Homo sapiens: one gene and its partners. The protein of the gene in region 3 purifies or fractionates together with the protein of the main gene of each other region. This does not show direct contact. Each region holds a gene or a part of one and is shown on either strand. Other genes may lie near its edges.

The links.
Region 1: the proteins of GCH1 (region 3) and PPM1B purify together in Homo sapiens (affinity purification with mass spectrometry, with the first as the bait; one study listed by BioGRID). This does not show direct contact.
Region 2: the proteins of GCH1 (region 3) and CAMKK1 purify together in Homo sapiens (affinity purification with mass spectrometry, with the first as the bait; one study listed by BioGRID). This does not show direct contact.

The regions. Positions count from the first base shown.
Region 1 is NC_000002.12:44,203,336-44,206,987, forward strand, and holds part of PPM1B (protein phosphatase 1B), read left to right. Parts: intron 1-3,652.
Region 2 is NC_000017.11:3,886,509-3,890,160, reverse strand, and holds part of CAMKK1 (calcium/calmodulin-dependent protein kinase kinase 1), read left to right. Parts: intron 1-3,652. UniProt on the Homo sapiens protein: Calcium/calmodulin-dependent protein kinase that belongs to a proposed calcium-triggered signaling cascade involved in a number of cellular processes. Phosphorylates CAMK1, CAMK1D, CAMK1G and CAMK4. Involved in regulating cell apoptosis.
Region 3 is NC_000014.9:54,843,827-54,847,478, reverse strand, and holds part of GCH1 (GTP cyclohydrolase 1), read left to right. Parts: intron 1-348; coding exon 349-380; intron 381-1,626; coding exon 1,627-1,711; intron 1,712-3,335; coding exon 3,336-3,462; 3' UTR 3,463-3,609; coding exon of another isoform or gene 3,610-3,652. UniProt on the Homo sapiens protein: Positively regulates nitric oxide synthesis in umbilical vein endothelial cells (HUVECs). May be involved in dopamine synthesis. May modify pain sensitivity and persistence.

The DNA of each region.
Region 1 (3,652 bases), on a different chromosome or scaffold from region 3:
AATAGTAAGTGGGTCTAAAATTATGTATTTGTCTTTGAACTCTAAATGAAGCAATTCTGACCTGTAGATTTTTGAGACAAGCATAGGCATATGTTTGTTGCCTGACTAGCTAATGAAAACAGCATTTTCCCCAATTATAAAAAAAAGGTATATACTTACTATTGGAAAAAAAATCCAGATGATGAAGAAAATATAGAGAAACACCCAAAATTTTGCCATCCACCCTAAGTCAGCTACTTTCATTGTTGTGGTGTATATTGTTCCAGTCTTTTCTGCCTGCCTGTGAGTGTGTGTATTTTTATAAAACCGAGATGATTATACTTGTTATTCTACAGCCTGCCTTTTCCAACAATATATTGTAGAGAGATCTCCATGCCTATAAGTATTGATCTGTATCATTTTTCTTGGCTGCGTAGTATTTTATTGAAAGAATGAGGTTGTGAGGGAATAGCCAAAAAATCTATTAGGTCTGTAATTTGGACTAAGGAAAGAAGTTTGTGTTAGTAGATTAACTCACTTATCCATTGAAAGGATGCTAGTTTTTGAGAATTTTGACTCGACCCTTCTGAATGAGGTTTAAATATTTCTGGTGGTATATCTTCACTTGCTAGCTTTTATCAATTTAGAGTGATTAAATGTTCATGTTGATGGTGTTAAAAGATTCTAGATGGCATCCTAGAATCTCAGAAATGAGGAATGATAATAACAGACAAGAAGTTGGGGCCCATGATTCATTCAATGTTAATGGAAGCTGACCATCATAGTTCCTTCTAATGGAGCTGCATTCAAATTGAAATCAGTTTGGAGGTTTGAATTGAAACAAAACAGACTTAAAATTATTTTTGAACCTTTGAAAGTTACTTATGGAAACCTTCATTTCTGTTTAACTTCGTAATTTTGTCTTTCCATTTATTTGTATTGTAAAAGCAAGGGTTAGCAATAAGATCAAATATAATTACTTTGAATTTACTCAGAAAAATTGTAAGTTAAAAATTCATGGAAAGCACTTAGCGATTGCACAGTAGTTACCTGCTGTAAGAGGAGAGGAAACATTAATAAGTAGATGTTTCCCTGATAAGAGATTTAAATGAAGTCCTAGTTTTTTCTAACACCTCCATCACTTGTCATACTTTCATAATTTATAAGCACTTTTATCTTAACTCATTAAATCTTGGGAGGTTATCATAATCATAATCGTGGTAGTATTAGTAAATTATTGCTTTCTGTAAGCCAAACACTATTCTAAATACTTTACATATTTTAACTCATGTAATTTTCACAACCATATGAGGTAGTTAAGATGACGAGGTCAGGAGATCGAGACCATCCTGGCTAACGCAGTGAAACCCCGTCTCTATTAAAAAATAGAAAAAATCGGCCGGGCGTTGTGGTGGGCGCTTGTAGTCCCAGCTACTCAGGAGGCTGAGGCAGGAGAATGACTTGAACCCGGGAGGCAGAGCTTGCAGTGAGCCGAGATCACGCCACTGCACTCCAGTCTGGGTGACAGAGCGAGACTCCGTCTCAAAAAAAAAAAAAAAAAAAAAAAAAAGATAAGCATTTTTCAGGGTTGCCAGTTAATATTAATCTGTAAGTGTTGTATGACTGTGGTCAGGTATTATCCTATTTAAATTAGGTATTTAACTCGAGGGGAGAATGGGAGCTAAGAAAGCAACCCTCCCATTTTATTTGCAATGCTGGCATTTATGGTGTTTACTGCCAACTAATTTCGGGTTGCTTAAAATATGTAACTGCCACGTGCATAGCTTTTCATAACTTGTAAATGATACATACTTATTAATCCTCATAGTAACTTTCTGAGGTGAACAAAATAAAAAGTTTTTTTAATTTGCAAGTAAGGAAATGGAGGTTGTTTGATATTAAAAGATATCCATAAGTCATATACTTGGTGAGTATTGAGGCTGAGACTAGTTTTCTGACTCAAGTTTAGTATTTTTGTTAACAATATTTCCCAGAAGGGCCTGATAAAATAAAGAAGAGTGGGTGTGGGTGTGGGTGTGGGTGTGTGTGTGTGTGTGTGTGTGTGTAAGTGTCTGTCTGTTTCGGTTTTCATGGTCTGAGAAATTTTTCCCCAAGGGAAACATTAAGACTAAATTTTTTTTGTAACAAATACAGAGATGTTTGAAGTAAAGTGATTCCCCTTGATGTTTCTGCTTTCCAGTCTCATCTCACTTAGGGAACCACTGCTCATGGTTTGCTGTATATCTTTCCAAATGGTTCTCTGTGATTATTGATAGAAATGTATAAACGTAAAATAGGATTTTTTCTTTTTTTGTATTTTATAGAAAAAGATCATGCTATGTTTGTTACTTTGTCACCTGTTTTGTTTTTCTTAAATTATAAAAGTCGGTATTCTTTTAAATTGTTCTTTTAAAACATTATTTGATTTTCCAAAATTTCATTTATATACCATCTACCAGAAGCCTATTTATTTTAAAACATGAGATAGTACCTCATAGTTGGATAAAATTGAGGGAAATTATCATTTTCCAAAGGCAACATCATTCTATATTAATTTATATAACATAGAAAATGTAACCCCCTCAATAATTGTTTAGTTCTAAACTCAGGAGAATTGCTTGAACCTGGGATGCAGAGGTTGCAGTGAGCTGAGATCGCGCCATTGCACTCCAGCCTGGGCGACAGAGTGAGACTCCGTGTCAAAAAAACAAAAACAAACAAAAAACTGTATCAGATTGTTTTCTGTTTAAGTTTAGATGCCCTTATTTATGGCAGGGGCACTGGCGTCTTTGATCTGGTACTATGATTATTAAGAGTGTTAACTGCTGTGCTGTTGTAAAAAGTAAAAAGAACATGTAATAATCAATTTTTATATGCAGAGCTAATTTCTTTAGTTATCCAAACTGGATTTAGAAAAAAAAATGTTTTATTTATGGACTTAGTGAAAACTTTATACTGATTATACAAGGATGTTTTGTCTCTAAAAAACAATGGCACAAAGGAAAGGACCTTTTCTGTTGCTGTATAACAGCTACTGAAACATATTCATACTTGGTGTTTAGGGGAAAGCCATCTTTACATAGAAATAGAAGCAAGCCAGGCAAGGTGGCTAAGAAGCAACATCACTGAAATCACACATGCCTGAGATGTAAATATAAATTATTTCCCTTAAATGTCTTTGGAGAACCATAAATTTATTGGAACTCTCTTTCAATTAATTTTCCAAAAGTATTTATATTTTATAACTTACAAAAATCGAATGGAAATTAGATAAGGAAATGTTCCACAATGCTCATGTTGTTGTTACCAAAAACTCAAAAGGGTTAAAAGAAATTAGATTTCTAAAAGTGTAAGGTGTTAATTCCGTTTATGCATAAAATTGCTTTATAAAGTGTAATTATGCTTGATTCTTTTTTTGTTGTTGTGTTTTAGAAAGGGTGTCTCACTGTGTTGCCCGGGCTAGTCTCAAACTCCTGGCCTTAAATGATCCTCCTGCCTCAGCCTCCCAAACTGCGGGGATTACAGGCAGCCACCATGCCCAGCTGTTTGATTCTTGAATATCCATGGTGTACTTTAAAATTATTTTTAATTAAAAATTTTTGCTTGAACTGCCCTTATGACATTTATACAAGTATATTCATATAACCAAACACATACAGTATTTCTAATATAA
Region 2 (3,652 bases), on a different chromosome or scaffold from region 3:
ATACTCGCCAGGATCATAAACACAGCTCCAGTGAGGCGGCCCAGGCATGGGAGGACCACCTTCTGTGTCTGGCCTGGGTGGCCGCCACCTCTGCGGCTTTCCCTTCTGTTCGGTCCTCTGCTGGTCACGGCTGTCCATCCCCTCGCCTGGATGTAGCTGGTCCCCTGCCTCGGCTTGGCACTGGGGTTCACAGCGGCCTTCCAGCGCTCAGAATGAGGCCTGACCAGGGCCTGACCAGCTCCCAGGTGGAGCTACTTGAACCCGCGTGGATGGCAGCAGGGTCTGCCTGCTCTGGGGCTCCTTTGAGGGATGCAGCTGGATGGGGCATGTCCTGTGGAAGAAGCCAGGCCAAGTGGGCGTCTGGAGCCGGGGGCCCACATTCCTTGGGAGTGGCCAGACGCTTGGGGGGTGGGGCACAGCCTGGGAGGAAAAACCTGGGTGGGGGATATGTGCCAGGCCATCTTGGAGCTGGGGGCAGAGGTGGGGTTGGACCTTGCACATCAAGGCTCTCTTGGACGCTTCTAGACACAGCCACATCCCAGCCCCACAGTGCTGTGGCACAAACTACTCCTGTGTCCACACCTCATTCTGTTCCTTCCATCGCCCTGGGAGTTGGCAGGACAGTGGCCTTCTGCTTGATGCACGTGTTAGGAAACAGAGGCTCCAAGAGGCTCGATGACTTGTCCGAGGCAGCAGATCCCCAGTCTGGGGGGACAGGATTGCAGTAGTTTTTCCCAATGAGGGAGGGCTTGAGTCTGGCTGTTCACGGCCGCAGGACTAAGCCAGTGCCCATGCCCACAGGAATCCTTCGCTGTACCATGGGCCTGGTTCCCGGCCTGTCTGTCCATCTTTCTGTTTGCCCACATGGCCCTAGTTATCCACCGAATTAAGTTTCTACAGAGTATCTACTAAGGCCTGAGCTTGGGAAGGGCCTTGAGACACCCCCTGTGTGAGCCTCCAGATGGGCCTGGGTTTCCGCCCGGGGCACAGAATCCAGCCCAGCAGGCAGTGCCAGGCTGGTGGGACCAGTGACTATGGGGAAAAGTCCAGATATGAGCTCTGGGATCAGGCTCCCAGGGCCCCCAGGGGCGCGGACCACCCCCCTACCCTGGGCATAGGTACACGGAGACCTGCAGGCACACAGGCGCATAAACACACCTGCGCACACACACATCACACCGAGGTTTTCATCTCCATGCAGTGCGCTCCTGTGTGGGGACCCACAACACACACACACACACACACACGCCACCACCCTGGTCCACAGCCTGCGCACACATATTCCCTCCTGTGGGGACACACGCCCTCACACACGCGGCCGGGGCGCCAGGCCCTGTCTCCCGGACACGCGGCAGGAACCTCGGGCCTCCCCGGCCGGCCGCCTCCCTCGCAGACGCGCTTAGTCACCTGAATTTGATCCAGGCGGGAGGGAGGGATGGGGAGCCTGACGTCAGCCCTCGCGGCCGCCTTCCGCCCGCCCGCGCATCCATCTGGGCCTCAGCGTGTCCCGAGCAATCACAACAGCAGCCGCACAACAACAACTCACTTTTACGGCCTCCTTAGTGGCAGGCACTGTTCTGAGCGCCTTACGGGCGTTCCCTCCTCAGCATCTCACCACGTGCGGTGAGGTGAGGCCCGCTAGAACCCCATCTTGCGGGCGAGGAAAACCCAAGGCACAGAGGCGAAGCCACCTGCTCACGGGCTCCCAGCCAGGAAAGGGTGCAGCCTGGCTGCCTGGCTTCAGAGCCTGGGCGCCAAACCGGGTAACAGGGCTCAGGCTGGAACAGGAAACCTTCTGCCCCGACTTGCTGGGTGACCCCGGGCCCATCCCCACCCGCTGGGCCTCCCTCTACCTATCTAAGAAAAGCAGGGAAAGGTGTTCAAGGGTAAAGGAGGATGGCCTCTTGCTGGAATGGCAACCTCAAGGAAATACGCAAATTTTATGGGCCCGGGCAGCCTGTGGCTTCTGCCTGTGGCGGCTCTGAGTCCCGTAGTCCCTGCCTAGGGCCAAAAAGCAGGAGCTCCTGACTCTGGAGTTCATTCTGTTATATGTGCTGGGGCCTGAGGCTTGCTGGGGTTGCCTCTCTGAGGCTGCTTTCTCATCTGTCTAATGGGGACAGGGCTGTAACGATCACTATGGCAACCACTCATTTATTCAACAAATATTTATCGAGTTCCTATCACATGCCAGGCACTGATGATCTTTTGGAGACAAGGCAGATGAGCGTCCTAATCTCATGAAACTTACATTCGGGAGGGAAAAACAAGGCATGCGGAGTGAGGGGAAGGGGCGGAGGGGTGGGCCACCTGCTGGGAGGAGCCTGGCGGGTCCTGGAGGGTGTTCCCAGCTTTGGCTTCCTCCTTCCTATGCTGTCTGGTTTCCAAGCTCTCCCCGAAGCTCCAGCCCCACTCACTGTCCCTCTCACCTCCTCCAGGGAGGCCTCCCTATGCCACAGCCTCTCACCTCCTCTGGGGAGGCCTCCTTATGCCACAGCCCCACTCTCTGTCCTCTCTCACCTCCTCCAGGGAGGCCTCCCTGTGCCACAGCCCCACTCCCTGTCCCCTCTCACCTCCTCCAGGGAGGCCTCCTTGTGCCACAGCCGCACTCACTGTCTCCTGCCCTCTCTTCCAGGGAGGCCTCCCTGATACTCTAGCCTCACTCAGCCTCCTCACCTCCTTCACCTCCTCCAGGGAGGCCTCCTTGATGTTCCAGCCTCATTAACTCCCTCTCACTCCTCTGGGTCCAGCTTCCATGACTTTTCCTGTTCCTAGTGTGGAGCCTCCTCTCTTCCTTTCTCCATGTCAGCACCAGCCCCACCGCCTCCAGGCTTCTACTCATTCAACACACTGCGTACCGGGCACAGGGGGTCTGGACCTCACCCTTACCCTCAGTCTACCTCCAAACCCTGCTGTGAGCCTGGAAAATATGGGAAGGCAGGGAATCCACAGGACAAGTCGGGAGACTGGGGCTCAGAGTCGGGAAGGAGCTGGTCTAGGGCCCCTGGTGGGTCAGCAGGCAGGACTGGAACCCAGTCCTGGCTCCTCAGTGGCCGGTGGACTCCAGCCAGCCCTGCCTCGCTGACATCTGTCAAAGCAAGGGGATGGGGAACGAGCGGTAGAGCAGGCGCTTCACCATGCGTACTCTGGGTCTCCCTGAGACCCATGTTCTCAGTTGCTGTGTGGGTTCGGAGGAAGTTACCAGCAGACAGGAAGGATGGAGGGTCAGGAGTTCACTCACTTCCTTCTCCTGAGAACATGCAGAGTCCAGCGCAAGCAGGGGGAAGGGCATCAGGTTGGGCATGGCCAGCGCTCTACAAGCCTGGGACAGAGATGGGGGTCTCAGGCTGAGTGTCAGGGTTCAGTCCGGGGTCAGGATGTAGCCCAGGGTCATGGCTGAAGGTGAGGGCTGGGGGTCACCTCCCTGATGTTTCAGCCGCCACACAGTGAGTTTGAGAACATGAGTCTCAGGGGATGTCATGCCCCTGTTTCACCCCTCATTCCCCTCATTCTCATCCCCTTGCTTTTTTTTGAAACCGAGTCTTGCTCCGTCACCCAGGCTGGAGTGTAGTGGCGTGATCTTGGCTCACTGCAACCTCCACCTCCCAAGTTCACACGATTCTCCTGCCTCAGCCTCCCGAGTAGATGGGATTTC
Region 3 (3,652 bases):
TTCATATATTTCTGCCTGCTTTGTATTCGCTGGCAGCTGATGAGATTGTGCCCACCCAGATTAAGTGTGGGTCTGCCTTTCCCAGCCCACTGACTCAAATGTTAATCTCCTTTGGCAACACCCTCACAGGCATACCCAGGAACAATACTTTGCATCCTTCAATCCAATCAAGTTGACTTTAGACTACATCTCCCTGTGGTACTTGTATCTTTCTGTCATCTTGCCATAAGCTTTATTTCCTCTTGCAGCCCACTTGCTTCAACAATGTCCTTTTTGTTTTATGAGGAAGGCTTATCAATTTTACTTCAAATGATTTGTGATTAACTAAAACAATTCTTTCTTTTCTAGGATTGTAGAAATCTATAGTAGAAGACTACAAGGTAAGCTTTAAAAATCTGTATTAACAGAAAACATTTTTCTTTTTTTTCTTTTTTTAAATTTTTATTTTTGAGACAGAGTCTTGCTCTGTCACCCAGGCTGGAGTGCAGTGGTGCAATCTCGGCTCACTGCAGCCTCAGCCTTCCAAGTAGCTGAGATTATAAGAGTGCATCACCATGCCTTGGCTAATTTTTGTATTTCTAGTAGAGACGGGGTTTCACCATATTGATCAGGCTGGTCTCGAACTTCCGACCTCAGGTGATCTGCCCACCTTGGCCTCCCAAAGTGCTGGGATTACAGGCATGAGCCACTGTGCCTGGCTACAGAAAACATTTTTCCTACACAAAAAGTATTTTTTGTTTTATTACTAGTGCGATAAGTATGACTTATAAAAATGTAAAACCTCTTAGGACTATAAAAAGTCTACTGTTTCAAGCTTCCAGAAGAAATCACTGTTGTATTTGCACATTCCTTCACATTTTCATGCATATACCTGCATTTTCAAATCAATTTATTTGGATTATGTTTAAACAAAAATGGGCTCATTTTATACATAATCAGCCTTGCTTTTTTCCCTGCTTTTTTTCATTTAACAAATCTTAAACATTTTTGCCACATCCATGTAACTATCTCATTCATTCTGGTGGCTGTCTAGAATCCTACCGTATATGCCATGGCTTGGCGTAACCTATACCAGCTCTGATAGATACTGGGGGGTTTCATCAGTTTTCAAATAGATGCAGTGCTGCAATGAATATTCCTGTATGAATTAAAAGACAAGTCATTTTATTCAGGACAGGAACTATATTATTTAGGTTAAATTGTTGGTTTTCAACATTGCTCTAAGCACAATTCAATAATTGGACTGCAGCCCCTTTGTTAACCCTGTTGCAGGCTATTTATTTGCTGCACTACTTTACCTCCATGGAGGTGCTTGGTAACCAGTACTGTGTTGTTCTAACTGCACAGGTATGAGATAATTGCTATTCTAATTCCTTCCCGCAGTGATGCTGGAGGGCTTCAGGGTGTTCTGAGATCTCTTTAGCCCTGTACTTCAGGTGAGGGAGTTGAATCCGGGCCTCTCTGTGGCCCAGTCAGCAGACAAAGCAGTCTGGTAAAAGCTGGTGTGTCTTGGCTCTTAAATCTCACAGAAGTCTGATTTTTAAGATTTCAAATGTTCTAGAGACAGAAAAAGCTTCCAGCTGTTTGTGTCAGACTCTCAAACTGAGCTCCTTATCACATCCACAGTTCAGGAGCGCCTTACAAAACAAATTGCTGTAGCAATCACGGAAGCCTTGCGGCCTGCTGGAGTCGGGGTAGTGGTTGAAGCAACGTAAGTCTGCATCTGCCTTTAGTAACGTCATAATGGTGCACTAGAAGTGATCTTGCTATTTAGTGCTTCTCATATTTTGTAGCACCAGGTGATGCCACACAACTGATATGATAACTGTAGATTTCCATCCCTGAGCCTAAAGCTCTTTTACCACTTTCATTTACTGTTACTGATATAGGAACAGAATATGGGAGAAGTATTTTTTGAGGGTAGGATGGGGCTTGTGGAGGCATAGGGAGTTAAAAGCACAGGTGTAGAGATTTGCATAATCAATAGCCTTTTTTTTTTTTGAGATGGAGCCTCACTCTGTCGCCCAGGCTGGAGTGCAGTGGTGCAATCTCGGCTCACTGCAACCTCCACCTCCCGGGTTCAAGCGATTCTCCTGCCTCAGCCTCCCGAGTAGCTGGGACCACAGGTGTGTGTCACCATGCCCGGCTAATTTTTGTATATTTAATAGAGATGGGGTTTCATCATGTCGGCCAGGCTGGTCTCGAACTCCTGACCTCATGATCCACCCGTCACGGCCTCCCAAAGTGCTAGGATTACAGGCGTGAGCCCCTGCGCCCAGCTCAATCGCCATTTTTTAAAAATGCTCAAGACAGGGTCTTGCTCTCTCACCCAGGCTGGAGTGCAATGGTGTGATCTTGGCTCACTGCAACCTCTGCCTCCCAGGTTCAAGCGATTCTCCTGCCTCAGCCTCCCAAATAGCTGGGATTACAGGTGCCCGCCACCACACCCAGCTAATTTTCGTATTTAGTAGAGATGGGATTTCACCATGTTGGCCAGGCTGGGGATCTCAAACTCCTGACCTCAAGTGATCTGCCCACCTCAGCCTCCCAAAATACTGAGATTACTGGCGTGAGCCACCACGCCAATAGCCATTTTTATGTCTTCTCTTGATTTTATGTCTTCTCTTGATTTCTTCTTTAGCTCTCTGTTGCTCCAAGCCGAGTTTTTCTAATATTTTGTCACACATTTAAAAAATAAAGCCAAGAATTGGTACATTTCTTTAAGTTAGGATGAGTTAAGAGAATTGCAGCTGTTGTGTGGACAAAGTTCATATGTGTTCTGTGACGTGGTGTGAACTCTGTTCTATGTCTGGTATCTAATGTCACCAGGTTGCTCAGACAGGATCTCTGGTCACCATTATCTGAATTCTGCCTGGTGACATCAGTATACTTGAGCATTTATCTGAACACCTAGGCTAGCATAGTGCTGTCTTGGTCCTGAAGGCAGAGCAAGTGAGAATTCTGACTTTCTTTTGATCTAGAAGTTAAGTAACTCTGTAGACCTTTTATATTACTTTCACCCCAGAAGAAAATTCCATTTTTCCCCTTTTTGGATGCTTTAAGGATCAACTACTGATAAAAATAAAAGTTGCAAGACAACTTCAAGAACAAAAAGTTTAGGTTGCTGCAAAGATAATTGCAGTTTTTGCCATTATGTTCAATAGCAAGAACCGCAGTTACTTTTGCATGAACCTAATAGATAACATTTGTGTAAGAAGGGATATTTCGATATACTTGGTAACTGTGAGCTGAGATTTAATCTTTAGGCCTGCTTTTAAAAACCAAACCAGCAGCTGTCTACTCCTTTAAACAACCTGTGTTGCCTTATTTTGTAGACACATGTGTATGGTAATGCGAGGTGTACAGAAAATGAACAGCAAAACTGTGACCAGCACAATGTTGGGTGTGTTCCGGGAGGATCCAAAGACTCGGGAAGAGTTCCTGACTCTCATTAGGAGCTGAGCTTCATTCAGTGTGTGTGCGTTGGTTGCCGATCGTACTGCCAGTAGCATTGTCTGTCTGTCCGGTCTTGTTTGTACATTCCATTTTCAATTGTTACAGATGTGAACTTTATTCCTTGTCACTAATTATATTTAAAATTATTTCTAGGAAGTCAAATAAATATAATAAAGGGTTGAGCCCTCTACTTTCT